Regions from separate parts of the Homo sapiens genome. Here regions 2, 3 and 4 are each reported to be linked to region 1. The links are microRNA targets in miRTarBase. Many come from high-throughput screens and were not tested one by one. Region 1 holds a microRNA gene; each other region holds the end of a gene's coding sequence.

Evidence for each region. The annotated mature microRNA hsa-miR-4680-5p reads AGAACUCUUGCAGUCUUAGAUGU and lies in region 1 at 1,238-1,260, opposite strand. An mRNA with a match to its seed (bases 2 to 7 or 8) in the 3' UTR can be bound and repressed. Matches are read on the target gene's strand: a 7mer-m8 pairs with bases 2 to 8, a 7mer-A1 pairs with bases 2 to 7 and ends in A, and an 8mer does both.
Region 2: the mRNA of SEC24D is a reported target of hsa-miR-4680-5p. The part of its 3' UTR that is shown has no 7-base or 8-base seed match.
Region 3: the mRNA of SIRPB2 is a reported target of hsa-miR-4680-5p. Seed matches in the 3' UTR shown: 7mer-A1 at 2,549-2,555 and 7mer-A1 at 2,125-2,131.
Region 4: miRTarBase lists PAWR as a target of hsa-miR-4680-5p. Seed matches in the 3' UTR shown: 7mer-A1 at 621-627 and 7mer-m8 at 2,435-2,441.

What each region holds. Positions count from the first base shown.
Region 1 is chr10:110,895,201-110,899,353 of GRCh38, reverse strand. It overlaps MIR4680 (microRNA 4680), which reads right to left and starts at 1,264; the gene lies at 1,199-1,264. It overlaps PDCD4 (programmed cell death 4), which reads right to left. Exons shown (of 12, transcript NM_014456.5): 11 at 3,267-3,406; 12 at 1-1,326. The coding sequence ends at 1,266. BBIP1 (BBSome interacting protein 1) reads left to right here. Exons shown (of 4, transcript NM_001195305.3): 4 at 1-624.
Region 2 is chr4:118,719,979-118,724,146 of GRCh38, reverse strand. SEC24D (SEC24 homolog D, COPII component) reads left to right here. Exons shown (of 23, transcript NM_014822.4): 23 at 492-1,324. The coding sequence ends at 632. Among named protein-coding and RNA genes, the nearest start is that of METTL14, 37 kb to the right of the region's middle.
Region 3 is chr20:1,472,677-1,476,836 of GRCh38, forward strand. SIRPB2 (signal regulatory protein beta 2) reads right to left here. Exons shown (of 5, transcript NM_001122962.2): 5 at 1,902-3,660. The coding sequence ends at 3,491. Among named protein-coding and RNA genes, the nearest start is that of NSFL1C, 7.9 kb to the left of the region's middle.
Region 4 is chr12:79,588,702-79,592,869 of GRCh38, reverse strand. It overlaps PAWR (pro-apoptotic WT1 regulator), which reads left to right. Exons shown (of 7, transcript NM_002583.4): 7 at 177-4,168. The coding sequence ends at 263. Among named protein-coding and RNA genes, the nearest start is that of PPP1R12A-AS2, 99 kb to the left of the region's middle.

The sequences.
Region 1 (4,153 bases):
GGGCTTGATAAAGCCCATGAGGTAAATATGAACACTAAACTTGGTTTTAATTCTAACAGACTATATCTAAACCTGTAAGCAGTATACTCCTAACAGTACCCTCATAAATTCTGAATATAATTCTTGTTTGCTGCAGTCAATATTTGGCAGTTTAAATTAGCACAGACGTTGAGGCCTTGCTGAGTTATTAGGCTATGTAAAAGAGGTTAAAAATATGATCATTCTTTATTGTTAATTGGTAATATTTTCTCATACATTAGGTAAATGTCAAGCTTTGGGTCTCTGGAGTATAACTTTTTGTAACATTAGCCATTATTTGGTAACAGAATTTAAGGATGATGGAATGATGGAAGGTATTACATATTTCTAAAACTTAATTAAGCTCTAGGTCAGATAACAATGGAGTAAAGTGATACCTGCATTTTTTTCCCCAGTGTAATCTTAATTTACTATTGTATTTTTCACTTAAAATTTTGTAGGGAAAAAAAGTTTTCAAGGGAACACTAAGATTAAATTGACTAGGTTCAAATATGCTTCCTTATGAGATTCAAAATTTACTGTGTGAAATTAAAGTTTAAGAGACCTAAAAAAATGTACTCCCAATAAAGAATCAATACTGCTTCACATGTTTTATTTTGGTGTACATTCTTCTAGAACCAGGTTCATTTTTCCAGTTTTGTAGAAAAATAGATGTTCCAGCCACCTTTTACTTAACTGTCTAGTCTTTTAAGACCAATCAGTATGTTCCCTGGAAAGATGAATAAGTCTCATGACTAATTTTTTAAAAATTCTTTAAGACAAAGAAATAACTTTCTTTTTTTACTCCCAAAGCACAGTATCTCAACAGCAGCAGCCAACATGGGGTTTTAGCAGCTTAACTTTACCCCCTAAATAAAGCTTTGTATAAACCAGTGATTTTACTACAAAAAACACTGTCCTTGAAAGAAAGGAGTGGCAGTCAGACATCAATGCAAAACTTGGAATGATTAGATAATAAACATGGCACTTACAAAAGGTAGCTTATTAGAATATTCCACTTAAGAAGAGGTTACTTTTCTGTCCCTCCTTGCCCCCTCGAAAAACAAAAAAAAAAGAAAAAACATTTCCTTTAAAAATTCCCCTTAAATGTAGGTTTATAAAATGTCAGAAATGCCTTGTACCCAAAACAAGTGCTTAAAAAAAAAAAAAAAAAAAACTTGTGCTAACAACTCTTACAATTCAGATATATATTTTTATAACATCTAAGACTGCAAGAGTTCTTATATTCAGTAGCTCTCTGGTTTAAGACGACCTCCATCTCCTTCGCTTACAAAACGCTTTCTGCCCCTGTAATGAAGAAAAAAAAAGACATGAAAACAGATACAAATTCTGACTATAGTCAATATATAAAAAAATTAAAAACTTGGTATTTTTTCGTTACGTGTTAGCTTTTAAAGGGTTTTCCATTAAAAAAAAAAAGCATGCCTCTAATTCCTTTGGAAAAGACTCCCTACTATATATCTTAGCATAAAACATCAATATCAAATCTGAGTTTTTGTTTTAATAAGTTCACTATCCAAACAGAGTCACATTAAAAAAAGTTGACTCAAACTAAAACATTTTATTTAGAAATTTAAAATTATTTCTAATTAATTTCTAATTATTATTTGTAAGCTTAACAGTAAGCCAAATAGGAAACACTAACATAATTCAGAATTATGCAAACTGGAGCTGTGCAACCTATCAAAATATCCATGTTTGGCAATTTAAAAAAAAATGTTTTATCAACTGTAGAAAAGCCATAACTTGAATGTGGAAAAAAATCAGAATTACAGCCTATGCCCCATTTTGGGATTCGTGCTTTGTCAAACTCAAGAAGCCCTGCTCTATAATGTAACCACACTCTTACCTACATGTAGTGGCAATAGCCCAGAAGGAACAGCTGGCCAGTGGCCTAAAGCAGTAAGTGGGAAATAGAACTTAGGCAACATTAGCCCTTACTCTCTGACCCCAGGCCAATAGGCACAAGCATGCAAAACCACACACAAATGTGCACCTTACCCAAATAGGCTAAAAGATGAAGGACCCAAGTCAAAGCTGTATGGTATGTATACACAGAAAGTTTATTGCCTCATGTGACCCTTGAGAATAAAGCCACACAGAAACAATCAGACTTTCAAACAGAGGCTGAAAAACTTTCAAAAAGCCAATGCCAGGGTACTGGCCCCTTTTCATATTAAGTCTAAGTGGAAAACAGCTACATCATCTTGAACATAAAGGCTTCAGACTGTATGAGACCAAGGTAGGGAATGAAAAAGCAGTCAATAATAAGAAGGCCAAAGTTCAGAGTTTTTACTGATGTATATCACTTGGCACATCCATACATAAATCCTGCCATCACCAAGCTAACGTCTGTATTTCCAAACATTTCTAGTAAAGCTATTAAACTATCTTTCATCACTTTCTTTTCCCTCTCTTTTAATGGCTTCTAAAATTCTAAAGCAAAGGCCCCTACCAGGAAATATTTTTCTGACTTTTAATTCTTACAATGCACTTAAAAATATCAAAGCTTAAGAAATTTTCCAGATAAAAAATTATAAGAACTTAAGATTATATAAAACTGACCCACACAAGCAAAAAGTTTAGCTATTACTAAACATTTATATTATTACATTATAAGCTTCATTATTAGCTTTAACAACAACAAAAAAACTTACCAACTAGTAGCAAAAATATTAATAGCTCCAAGGAAAATCACCCACACACATACACTTTCCAGTGAGAACATCCTCCACACACCCCCCAACACACACACTTTCTAGTGAGAACATCCAATTAGCCCTAATTCTCCAACCTGTAAAGAAGTCAAGGAAGCCACATCCAGTACAGGTAAGAGCCTAGATCTTTGAAGCCAGAAAAGTCCTGAATTCATACTTGGCTTCTACCATGTACTAGCCATGTGACCTTAGAAAAAGTACATTATACCTCCCTAAGCCTCAATTTTCTCATCTTATCACTGATAATACCTACTCTAAACACTGAAACTACTTACAACAAAGGACCTGCTCCACAAGATTAGTTTCTTTCAAATAAACTAGGACTTCATGAGGCAGTCCTGTACAGATTTACAAGGGGGCTAAAACAAGCTTCGCCCTTCTTTCTCCATGAACTCACAAGAGTCACGTTCTTCAGTGACTTCAGGGAACGATAAACTAACTTAGCAGTTAACCTTCCCAAAGATCTCATCCACTATTTTACATTGAGAAAGTAGTATTTAAATAAAGTACCTTGAAGGACAAAGATCTCTGAGTTGTTTGGAAATTATTCCAGCCTGAAAACATTCTTCTACAAACCGCTCCAGCACAGAGTATGAATGTGGGACATCCAGATTAATGTCCGGAATTTCATTGTAAATTCTCTCATAACCCTACAACAATGAAATTACATGCAGAATTGTTAGCCCATATAAAATAAATGTCATAAAACACAATCCATCACTATGTCATCAATTTGTATTTAAGGCCAAATATTCAAATGGTTAAACTGAAGTCAGATTTGAATCGTGAGAAGCACAGAAAGTAGATTTGTTACAGTGTTTTACAACTGTTCTCTTTTATTAGAGTCAGGAAATAACAGACATTGGCAAGGTTGAGGAGAAAAGGGAAGGTTTATACGCTGTTGGTGGGAATGCAAATTAGTTCAGCCCCTGTAGAAAGTGGTTCGGAGATTTCTCAAAGAACTCAACATAGAATTACCGTTCAACCCGACAATCCCATTACTGGGTGTATACCCAAAGGAAAATAAATCATTCTACCAAAATGACACCTGCATTTGTATATTTATCGGGTACTATTCACAACAGCAAAGACATGGCATCAATCCAAGTGCCCATCAATGGTGGATTAGACAAAGAAAATGTGGTACATATACGCCCATGGAATGCTACATAGCCATAAAAAAGAACAAAATCATGTCCTTTGCAGCAACGTGGATGCAGCTGGAGGCCATTATCCTAAGAAAATTATCACAAACATAAAACCAAATAATGCATGGTCTCACTTGTAAGTGAGAGCTAAACATTGGGTACACACAGACATGAAGATGGGAACAATAAACATTGGGAATTTCAAAAGTGGGGAGGTAGGAAAGAGGACAAGAGTTGAAAAATTACCTA
Region 2 (4,168 bases), not on the chromosome of region 1:
TTGTACATACTGCTGCCACTTAACTCTCTCATTTCATTCTTCTGCACCTTCACTGGATCACATTTCCTACAGAAACCCAAACTCATTATGATGATAATTTGTCCCTTTTAGAAGAAGCCTGTGATAATTTACATGCCAGCCATAATTGTATCTCTGGTACATGGCACATGTATTCCAGTATGGAACACTTTCTAGCCCTACCCCTATCCTTTAAGGCTCAGGGGACAGTTACTATCACTGTGAAGCCTTTCCCGTAACACTCTGCTTAGGTTTCATTTTTGCCACTTAAAATTGTATGTCTTAGGTTTTGGGGTTTCGGGGTCCATGCCTCTTTCCACTCTAGATATCAGGCACTTTCCCATCATCCTCCATAGCCTCACACATAATGGGCATTCAATAATGTTTGCCAAAATTGAAATAGACAAAATTGACCCATTTTCAAATAATGTTTATAACCAGGGGCTGTTACTGTTTTGTTTTTTTTTTCCTAGCTCACAATTGTAAAGCAGCGAGAACAACCAGAAATGGTTTTCCGACAGTTCCTGGTAGAAGACAAAGGACTTTACGGAGGCTCTTCTTATGTGGATTTCCTTTGTTGTGTTCACAAGGAGATCTGTCAGCTGCTTAATTAATTGAAACTTCTCTGTCATTGATGTTGCATTTCCAAGGAGATAATCTCCTTCTTGGTGCCTAATTTTCTAGATGATAATAGGCTAGTTTTGATTTCTTGCTCATTTTCAGAATAACTTTCCAGGAAGAGATGGCATTTAGAACTTCAGCTTTGGTGCTCAGGTATAAAGCCAATTAAGGTACAATTGTACCATAAAGGGAACAATCTGTTTCTGATTGCACAGTTTCTAATTTTTAAAACTGATGTGGTTTGCATTTCATAAAAGGCAAAGTTTACAGAACCATAAACATTCTCAATTTTCTTTATGCTAGACATATAAATTATTTTTCAAACTGTATAGATTTGGGGTAAAAAGTTGTCTCAGTTCCTCTCCCAATTGCAATGAGAAAAAAAAGCTTAATTTTTACATTATACTTAATTTTCTAAAACCATGTAACTCCATTGAACACATTTTTCAACTTAAGGTCTGCATAGCAGACTTTTAATAACCTTGGGATTTATCTGGTAGAACAATATGTGTTCTACATTTTTTTCATAATTATATATTGTGTATGTTAAAACTATTTTCCAGTTGTTTTGTCTGTAAAACTGTCTTTATCAATATGCTTAATGGTTCTTTGTACAATTTTGAAAGTTTCTACCTGTATATAATGGATGTTAACCAGTATCAATAAATCACTTCGTATAATCTTAGTAGGTAGATTTATTTATTTATTATGTATTTTTAGGTCTTAAAAAGAAATAAGGGTAGTATTCAAAAAGTCTTGGCAAAAAGTTGTTTGGGTAGCTCACTAAGAACAAATCAGGAAAACAAAATTTTCTCTTTTTTTTTGAGGGTTGAGGAGTACTAGGCAATAAATCTAAGAAACATCATATTATACTTGAGAAAGGCATTTCAAAGTTCTCTAAAATGTTTTTGTGGGCAAAATAAATAGAAATGGGCGACATGAAACCATTATTAATGAATATGTCTAAACCTAGAAGAATGATTTTGAGTGATGTCACAAAGGCATCTGCCTCTACCTGCCCTATTCAACTTTGTTATCAATTATATGAATAATAATAGCTAACATATATTGAGTACATATCGTGTCCCAAGAACTGCACTATGTTTTCTGGGAACATATGCACATGTATTCTTCACAGCAACCCTGATCCTGTTATCAGCCCCATTTACACATGAAGAAACAGGCTTAAGTTCCTTGTCTCTGATTATATGGCTAGTAAGATTTATTTATAAATTAGATGTCATGAAGTAGGTAGAAAAACAAATACAGTGACAGAACTAAAATCCCCCCCATGTTAGCCAACTGGCATGTTGCTTCAACATCAACTTGGATGAGTTTAACATCATCAACTTGGATGAGTTTAACATCATCAACTTGGATGAGTTTAACAAGAAGAAATGTAAGCTCCTAGACTTGTGTCCAAAAAACAAATGCATATGCAGGAGATCATTCTTGGAAACAACACATGTTAGAAAAAGAACTTAGGGAGTTTGCCATTATGAATCACTAGTGGAATGAAAGCAGATATGATGTCAATCTACCTTATTACTAGGATAGGCTGTCAAATGAGCATAGTGATGGTTCCACTCTACTCTGAGGTCAGGCCACACCTAGGCGCTTGTTCAATTCTAGGCACCATGCCCTATGTGAAATAGAAGCACAGAGCACATTCCTTTATTCATTTGAAGGCTGTCTAATGATTTGTTCTTTGTGTTCCTTAGGGTATAGAACCAGAATCATTAAATAGAAGTGACAGGCTGGGTGCGGTGGCTCACGCCTGTAATACCAGCACTTTGGGTGGCCGAGGCGGGTGGATCACTTGAGGTCAGGAGTTTGAGACCAGCCTGGCCAACATGGTGAAACCCCGTCTCTACTGAAAATACAAAAAATTAGCTGGGCGTGATGGCAGGCACCTGTAATCCCAGCTACTTGGGAGGCTGAGGCAGGAGAATTGCTTGAACCCGGGAGGCAGAGGTTGCAGTGAGCTGAGATCGCACCATTGCACTCCAGCCTGGAAGACAGAGCTAGACTCCAAAAAAAAAGAAGTTACAAAGTTCCACTTAACACAAGAAACTTCTAAATAATTAGGTGCTCAAAGAATATGCCATTGGAAGTAGTATCTTCTCATTTAACAAATACTGACTGCACATTTTCTAGGTGCCAAACACTAGGCGCTATACTGGAGAGACAACAGTGAACAGTACAAGCAAAGTCCCTGCCATCTCTACAATTACAGGAAAGTTTCAGAAATGCCATGAAATGCTACAGTAAGCACACAGCAGGGATATCTGACCTGGTCTAGCTGGGGGGGCAAGGTGTAGTCAGTAAAGATTTTCCAGAGGAAGTTACATTGAAGATGAGACCTGAAAAATTGTAAACATTTGCCAGGTACTTGGCAGTATTGGTAAATATGCCAGCAGAAGAGAAAATAAGCATGAAGGCTCAGAGTGGAGAGGGCACACATCACCCTTTCAGTAAACTAAAGAACTTAAACTTGACTGGAACTATCAAGGAGAGACAAAGTCGTAAAAGATAAAGTTGGAGAAGCAAGTAGAGTGAGGCTTAGCCAAGGAAGAGTTTGGACTTTATCCTAATGACAAAGTGAAGACCTTCAAAGTAATTTAAGCAGGAGCAGCAGGATCACTCTAGAAAGATCACTTTGGGGTTGTAAGGTGATGTAACTTGCAGCAGACAGACCATTTAGGAGGCTATCAGAATAGTACATTTGAGTTCACGATGGCCTGAATTAAAATAATGGTATTTAGTTGTTGGGGGTGGGGGAATTGGGGGAGAGGTGATGTAAGGGAAGAGAAAGTGTCAGAAAACGATTTGTTTTGAGCAACTGGGTAGACAGATGATTCTCTGAGAGGAAACAGAAATAAAAACAGCTTGTGTATGTCAGTGTGTATGTAAAGGGTATAGTTCAGATTGTACATATCTAAGGTAGCTTGCAAGCTATCCAAGTGAGATAAACTATAAGACCTAAAAATATGGGTGTGAAGCTCAGCAGAGAGCTGTAAGCTAAAGATCTGCAAGCCATCTACATATATATCAAGAAAAGGAAGCCACACAAGTGGCTGAAAAAACTTAGGCTGACTCTGTAGAGTGGGAAGGAAGCAAATCCCTAGGGCAGAGAGTCACTAGAAACCTTGAAACTGGGAAGGGCCAGAGAGGTAAGAAGGGAACTTGGCTAGAAGATGTCACAAACCTCAAGGTAAAAGAGGGGGTGCATGAAGAGAGTGGGCAGCCAAGTTACAGGCTTCCAAAAGACAAAGACAAAAATGTTTGTTGGGATTAGTAAAAGGTCATGGGTGACTTTGGTGAAGAGCAGTTTCTCTAAATCAGTAAGGCTAAAGGCTAGATTAGAACAGGTTGAAGAAGGGGAGGCAGAATGGAGGCAACTCAAGAGGCGACGAGCGGGTGGATCACAGAAAGGGGAGGATTTTTTAAATTTTAAATTTGTTTTAAATTTTAAATTTTAAGGGATTTGCCATTCAAATGCTGGTGGAAAGAAGCCAGTATTATGTGG
Region 3 (4,160 bases), not on the chromosome of region 1:
CAGTTTATAGACAAGGAAACTGAGAGAAACAAACTCACCCAAGAGATAAGTAGGAGAACTGGAATTTGAACCTGCACAGCCAGATTTCCGAGACTGTGTGCTTCATCTCTGCCATGTATGTAGTTCAGGCGTTTACGGGGTCTAATACAGGCCAGGCATTCTGCTTGGTGTTTGCTGTTCTTGTGCAAGTCAAGCACGCTCCTGCCTCAGGACCTTTGCATTCGCTGTTCCTTGTACTTTTCAGCTCTTCCCCTGGGTATCTGCAGGGCTCTCTTCCTCACCTCCTTCAGGTGTCTGCTCAAATGTCACTTTATCAGGAGGCCTCTTCTGTCCACCCTGCATAAAATAGTGTCACTTCCCCTTTGCTCTGGCAACTTCCTTCCCCCTCCTCCTGCGTTGTGAAGGCCCTCAGCACTCAGTATAGTGGGGCCTGTTACTCACCTAGGGTTACTTGCTCATTGTCTGTCTTCTCTCGGGAGGAGGTAAGCTCTGAGAGAGCAGACTTCTGTTTCTTTCTCAGCACACTGATTAGGGCCTGGCACAGAGTCAGCTTTCAACCACGTTTCAGGATTCAATGAGGGTGGCTACAATAGTGGACCATTAGGTTCCTGTCCCCAGGGAGCTCAAATTCTAGTGGGGACAACTAACAACCATCAAGGAAGCAGATACACAAACACACACGCACACACAGACACGCACACATGCACACACGCACACACACGCACACACACGTGCACACGCAGGCACACAGATGCACACATGCATGCACACACACCCACATAGGTGCACACACACATGCATGTGCGCTCACACACACACACCACACACATGTTTTCAGGTAGCAGTAAGTACTATGAAGAAAACTTAAGTGGCAAGCAGGAATGAGAGTGATGGAGGTGCTTTTTTGGATAGAGTGGTCCAGAGAGGCCTTTAAAGGTAAGAGTTAAGCAGAGACTTGAATGAATCAGGGAGCTTTGTGTGGTCAAAGTCCAGAGGGGTGCTGGAGAAGAGTCAGCTTACAGGATCTGGGGAGATGAGGTCAGAGGGGGTGGCAGGGACCAGCTCATGCAGGGCCCTACAGGGCTAGGGGGCTTGCAAGGGCAGGTGGGACCCACCTCCAGTTAGTGGAGAACCACCTCCATGCTTTCCTGCTGTTTCAGCTTCCCGTGGCCGCTGTAACAGATCACTGCAAACCTGATAATTTAAAACAACAGAAATTTATTTTCTCATATTTCTGAAGTCCCGAAGTCTGAAATCAAGGTATTGGCAGGGCCACACTTCCTCCGGAGGCTCCAGGGGGAGAATTTCTTCCTTGATTCTTCCAGCTTCTGGTGGCTGCTGGCATTCCTTAACCTGTGGTCACATAGCTCCAAACTCTGCCTCTGTGGTCACATTGCTTTCTCTTCTACATCGAAGATCCATCCGTGTCTCTCTTGTAAGGATACTTAACATCTCTTTTAGGGCTCACTTAGATAATCCAGGGTAAACCCCCACCCCCATCTCAAGATTCTTAATTTAATCACACCTGTATAGTCTTGTTTTCTTTTTTCTTTTTATTTTTACTTTTGCCATACAAGGTAACAGTCAAAGGTTCCAGAGATTAGGACATGGATATCTTTGGGGTGGGGGTTAGTATTCAGCCTACCTTCCCTACCCTCTCTAATGTCTGGTAATTCAATAATTTATTCCATTCTCAGACTAAATTACTGTTGTCGCTGGCTTAGTTCAAGCTGTTTTTCTGTTTGTGGTAATGAAAAACATCTAGACTCATCTACTCGCCGCTATAGTGAGTGCTAATAAATGTTTGCCTGGAAAGAGAACAGGGAATTTACATGTATCGAGTGCATGCAGTGCACACAGCACATAGTAGGCCCTCAGTAAATGCAGAATTGAATTGGTTCTTTTTTTTTTTTTGAGACGGAGTTTTGCTCTTGTTGCCCAGGCTGGAGTGCAATGGCGCGATCTCAGCTCACTGCAGCCTCTGCCTCCCAGTTCAAGCGGTTCTCCTGCCCCATCCTCCCAAGTAGCTGGGATTACAGGTGCACACCACCACGCCTGGCTAATTTTTTGTATTTTTAGTAGAGACGAGGTTTCACCATGTTAGCCAGGCTGGTCTCAAACTCCTGAACTCAGGTGATCCACCCACCTCGGCCTCCCAAAGTGCTGGGATTACATGCATAAGCCACCGTGCCTGGTCTTGAATTGGTTCTTACACAATGCAGAGAAGTCCACATTAGTATCCTGGATGTTCCGTGATGGGAAGGGACTCTGATTAGTCACTGAGGGTGCACAGGGAGGAGGCAGAGGCCTCAGGGTTAAAGGCAGGTGTGTCTGACTCCTGGGCATGCACACTCTTCCCCATGTCAGGGCTTCTCAGTCCACTAGATGGTGGTAGCACCCCCCCAGGTTGTGCCAACCAAAAACATCTCTAGACATTGCCAAAAGTCCAGTGGGGGCAAAATCACTCATCTTGGGAACTACTGCCCCACATCATGCTGCCCCAGGGGAGGTGATAGTGGGAAGAAGTGCTGGCTAGCTAGCTGGGCATTGAACTCAGGTGTCCCACAGGGCAGGTGAGAGGCTGTCTGTATGCTGCTGTGGTGGAGATAACTGGTTATCCCCTGATATCTGCCATCTGGTTTCTCTAGTGAAAACTTGCAGCTGGGCGCATTGCTGCCAGAAATAAAGACTACATCTCCCAGTGTTTCTTGCAGCTAGGTGTGACCATGTGACCACATTCCAGCCAAGTAGAGATAAGTGAGGTGGCCAAGTTCCTGACTGTGCACTTAAAGGGGAGGGTCCTGCTCCCCTTTCCTGCCCTCTTTTCCAGTCTGGCTGCCTAGAAGGTGGACCTGGTAGCAATGAGATCAGTGAATCCTGGGTCTCAATACCAGGGAGTCTCTGTATTGCTTGGCCTGCTGATGGTCAACTTTCTGGTTGATTTCCACTGGTTTAAGCCACTGTTATTTAAGAGCTTTGTTATAGTTGCTGAACCTGCATTCTAATATTATACCTGCCCAAGCCAGCCATGAGGGGGATGGAAGGAAGGCAGGAAGGAGTGGGGAGAAAGGTGTAGATGGAGGGGCACAGATGGTCTGGCTGGTTGAGTTCAGAGATTCTTACAGACATCTCCTGGGAAGAAGACTCTGAGTTGGATGTTGGAGGCCAAGAAGGATGTAGCGAGGTGGGGAAAGGGGCAGGGCGCACCAGAAAGGGCTGCAGCAGGGGCAAGGGTGTTGAGGAGAGACTGAGCCAGGGACTGAAAAGCAAGGAGGTCTTGAACAGGCCAAAAAGAGAAAGGGAGACATTTTAGAGGGAAGCCCGGTGCAAAGAAGGGAATTTCACTAGGTGGACCAAAACCAGATGTAGGGATCTAGGAGTTTGTCATGAGGCCTGGGGGCACCTAGAGGCTGGGACTGGAGGTAGGGAAATGGTTGAGGAGCCCTGGCTCCTCTCCAACTCAGAGGGTCCTCACTCTGGGGCTGACCCCTCACTCTTGACCCTTGCTCCATGCTAAGGTGTTCATGGCTCCTGCTGGGCCTGTGGTCTTGACATCTTCTTGCCCAGGGCTCCTCCGAGAGGTAGCCAGGGCCAGTAGGAGTGCAGCCAAGGTAATTGCCTTCAGCCCCAGGACCACAGGTGCGAACACAACCAGGAGGCCTGGGAGGCACAGGAGAGAGCTCAGGCGGGACCCGTGGTGAGGGCCCCACAGCCCACGCCTCATTGCTGCCCATGGGCAAGGTCACATCCTGCTGCTGTATAACCTCTGGAGCTGTATCCTTTCTACATTGAAAGAGGAGATCAAAGACCACCCTTCCCTCTGCCCTGGGCCCAGAGAACGGTTGCCCAATATTCTGCCTGCATCTGTAATCATCTCAGTCACATCCCTAACCTCTGCTATTCCTAATTGCCTAATGCAATCCTCAAGGTAATCCTACAGTGTAGGATAGTGATCCAATTTTTATAGATAAGGAGACAGACCCAGAGTGGGGAAATGATTTTCTCAGGGCCACATGTGTTAAAGAAGTCACGGGACCCAGGCCGTCTGGCCCCCATGAATGGCAGGAGCAGGGCCGAGCATCAGGAAGGCAAATCTGACCACATCTATCACAAGCTCCCACCAGATACTGAGAGTCCTTGAATGTTAACATGAGATGTGC
Region 4 (4,168 bases), not on the chromosome of region 1:
GTCAAGTAATGGATGCTCTTTTTTGGTGGGGCATATTACATCTAAAGTTGTTTTCAGAGCTTGCCCTCATTTCAAAATTAATTGGTTGTATGAATTATTTTTAATGTGTATTAAGTGTTTTCATCTCTCCTCAAATATTTTTAAGTATTTTTAAAGTGTCTTTTTTTTTTCTTAAGGACCTAGATGACATAGAAGATGAAAATGAACAGCTAAAGCAGGAAAATAAAACTCTTTTGAAAGTTGTGGGTCAGCTGACCAGGTAGAGGATTCAAGACTCAATGTGGAAAAAATATTTTAAACTACTGATTGAATGTTAATGGTCAATGCTAGCACAATATTCCTATGCTGCAATACATTAAAATAACTAAGCAAGTATATTTATTTCTAGCAAACAGATGTTTGTTTTCAAAATACTTCTTTTTCATTATTGGTTTTAAAAAAGCATTATCCTTTTATCTCACAAATAAGTAATATCTTTCAGTTATTAAATGATAGATAATGCCTTTTTGGTTTTGTGTGGTATTCAACTAATACATGGTTTAAAGTCACAGCCGTTTGAATATATTTTATCTTGGTAGTACATTTTCTCCCTTAGGAATATACATAGTCTTTGTTTACATGAGTTCAAATACTTTTGGGATGTTACCTTCACATGTCCTATTACTGATGTGTGCAACCTTTTATGTGTTGATGACTCACTCATAAAGGTTTTTGTCTACTGTCATTTGTTCTTTCCACTTATTCTAAGCATTTAGAGTAATAGAGTCATACTTTTTTATAACAGCAACCTTTTAAAAGGAAAGCTCTTATAAAGTCACTGTCATGTTTTAGTTGACTAAATATAAATTTAAGAGAATACTTGAATTGTGCTATAGTAAATAAAAATTTACTATTTTGTGTTTGAATATTGAAAAATTGAATCACTTTAACTCCTGAAAAACATACAATTGTAATTTCAATGTAAAATTTCTTATGTAGGTACTACCTTTTTTTATCGTTCCAAGGTTTGCTAGTGAACACAGGATATTTTAAAAGTTTTTTATTCTTCGGGCCTGGAAAGTGTACAAAGTCAGTGTAGGAGAAAAAAATCCATATTTTTATATTAGCATGCACACTAAAAACCAAAATATTATTCATACTTAAAACATTCATACAAAACAATATGTAAGCAGAAATAGTACTAAAATACTTTGCCTAATTTCTAAGTTGAAGAATAACACTGGGACACAGTTTTTTCATATGAGAGAATATTCCGCTATTTCAAATTTAAGGGATTTTCTTCCTAACATTGAAATTTTAAAAACAGAGTTACTTCTAAATAATTATACAGATTTTTTCTTCTATTAAATATTATTATTTAGAATTGTTTTTGTATTACATATTCATGTTAAGAACCCCGTCTTCCCTTAAAATACATTAAAATTATGACATTTTTGCTTTGTGATTGAATTTCAAATAGCAGTATGGTATCCTTTTATCTAGTTAATATATGAAAGTGGCTTGAATATAGTCAAATCCATTTTAGGTACTCTACTGACTTTTTCCTTCACTTGCCAAGCCCTTTTATTGTTCACTGTTAGAAAAATAGAGAAGGTGAGACAGCTGGGGGAAAATGTGGAGTAAATGATAATCAAATGTTGAATTCTAAAAGTCTCTACATTTACCTAGGTTGGCTTTCTCCCCCAGTTCAGAAGTTTCCAGCTTGGCCAATCATCAGAATCACTTGAGGAACTTAGAAAGAACTCCCTGGCTGTAGCTCCTATGTAGGTTTAGGTTGAGACTCTGGATTCCACAATTTTTAAAGGTTACCATCTGAGGTTTCTGATCATAGTCTACTTTTGAAGCAGCTGCTGCTGTTTCTTTATTCCATTGAACACCCTGGAATTGACATAATTTTATCTATCAGCATTTCTCCCCTTTTAGTTTATTTAATAATTAACCCGGTCTCCAGGGCAGTTTTCATATGACCATGTGTATATTCACTGCTCACGAAAAAGTTTAATGTTAGATTACCAAATTTAATATAGTTACAGAATTACTGCATAAGGGCTTCCCTTCTTGGAGACTCTTACCCAGCATGGGAACAGTGATCTGCCCACATGACAGGGTGGTATGCCAGGCATAGTTAACTGCTTTTGGTTGTGAGGTACTCATCTTCCTTTAGTTACCCTTAGTTATGTGGCACACATGTCCTTATTGCCTAGTTCGTCATCCACACTTTGGATCTTGTGAAAATGCTGTTAGTATCCAACCTTAAAATATATTAGTATATGGGTTTTTATTAAAAGAATTACTTTGAATTTTCTATTTAATTCATATGTAAATAAAGGAACATTTCATTTCACTTAAAAAAATTATATCAGTTATTAGGCTGGGTGCAGTGGCTCATGCCTGTAATCCCAGCACTTTGGGAGGCCAAGGCGGGTGGATTACCAGAGTTCGGGAGTTTGAGACCAGCTTGACCAACATGGAGAAACCCCGTCTCTACTAAAAATACAAAATTAGCCAGGTGTGGTGGCGCATGCCTGTAATCCTGGCTACTCAGGAGGCTGAGGCAGGAGAATCGCTTGAAAACCCAGGAGACAGAGGTTGCGGTGAGCTGAGATTGCGCCATTGTACTCCAGCCTGGGCAAGAAGAGCGAAACTCTGTCTCCAAAAAAAAAAAAAAAAAAATTATTAATACTTTTAAAGACTGAGCTGTTTAAGAATTTTTTGGGGAACATTTCTAGCAGTGATTTTTTTGGCCTTTAATGATAGCGTAAAGACAGGAGCCTTACAACTTAGGCAAAGCATTTCACATGCAGTCCTTCTTCCATCTCAAAATATGTACTTATTTTACATACAGAATTTTACACTAACCATTGAAAAATAAAGTAGGATCTGCTACAGTTTCACCTGAAAATTTATAAAAAGTGTTGAGATTGGTAGAAGGTAGTTTTTAAGTACATGTGCACTACCCTAAAAGACTTGTCTATTGTCAATAAAGTGTTAGTATTTGTGAAATTATTATTCCTGTTCAGAAATACTATTTCTTAAATCTCCTGGGAATTTGTGGCATAATAAAGCACATTCAAAGTTCTAATGTATTTATGAGCTCATTTTCAAAATAGTAAGTTTGTCATCTTTAAAATGAACATGACTTGCCTCCTTGATTTCTGAAATGAATTAATTGAAGATTGCTATAGTAATCTTTATTTCATCTTTCTAGAGTTGTTGACAATTTTATTATACAACAGTTACCATTAGAGAAGGAGGGAAGGGCTTTTGGGTGTGTATTTATAGGTACTAAGGGATTTACTAAATATAGTAGATTAGCACTGTCACACTTGTTCAAGTAGTTTCAAACATAGAAAATTAAGTATCAGGTATGTGGAGCAATGTAGTTTTTTTTTTTCTTCAGTTTAAAAAATTTTTAATTGTGGTAGAAGCAATGTATTCTTAAGGTGAAAAACCTACCTCGGTTACATGTGGTTTGTGTTTTTTGGATTAATCTGGATTTTATAATTAGAAATAAAAATGTAAGATTTTGAATCCACTTAATTTCTTGAAAATAGTACAAGTCAGTGTAATAGAGAAGCATTCATATATTCAACACTGTAAGACAAAACAGCAGAGACCTTGGATTTGATAATTGATCTGATATCCTGGACAGTATTCATATGTACAGTGATAGGTATCTTTCTTTGGAGTTTTTTTTTTGTGCATATGTGTATAGTTTTATGGGTTCTGAGTTGGTGACCAGTAAGTTGCATGTAGTGCTGGCACTTACTTAATAACTATTCATGATATTGTTAATAACTTGTTATAGGATTGTATTCCCAATTACAGTCTCTAAGATTGTAATTGATATTATCTGAGAGGTAGTGTGACAACTTTCTTTTGTTGTTACATTAAGCCGAAAACATAATACTAATAGACAACTAACAGTTTGCTTATCAGGCACATCAACTAAGGCACCTCCCCCCATGCTAAGTTTCTCCTGGATATATGGAAGTTGATTGTTTCCCAGTTTAAAAACTTGAACTAATATCTCCTAAGAAAATCTGAGTCCATATTGTTTTTATTTTACTTAGCTAGAATCTCATAGCATGTTAAAGTCATATCCTTATCCCCACTAAAAATAACTATGTCTATGTGAGAGGAATATAGTATGTGGGAGCTGTATTAA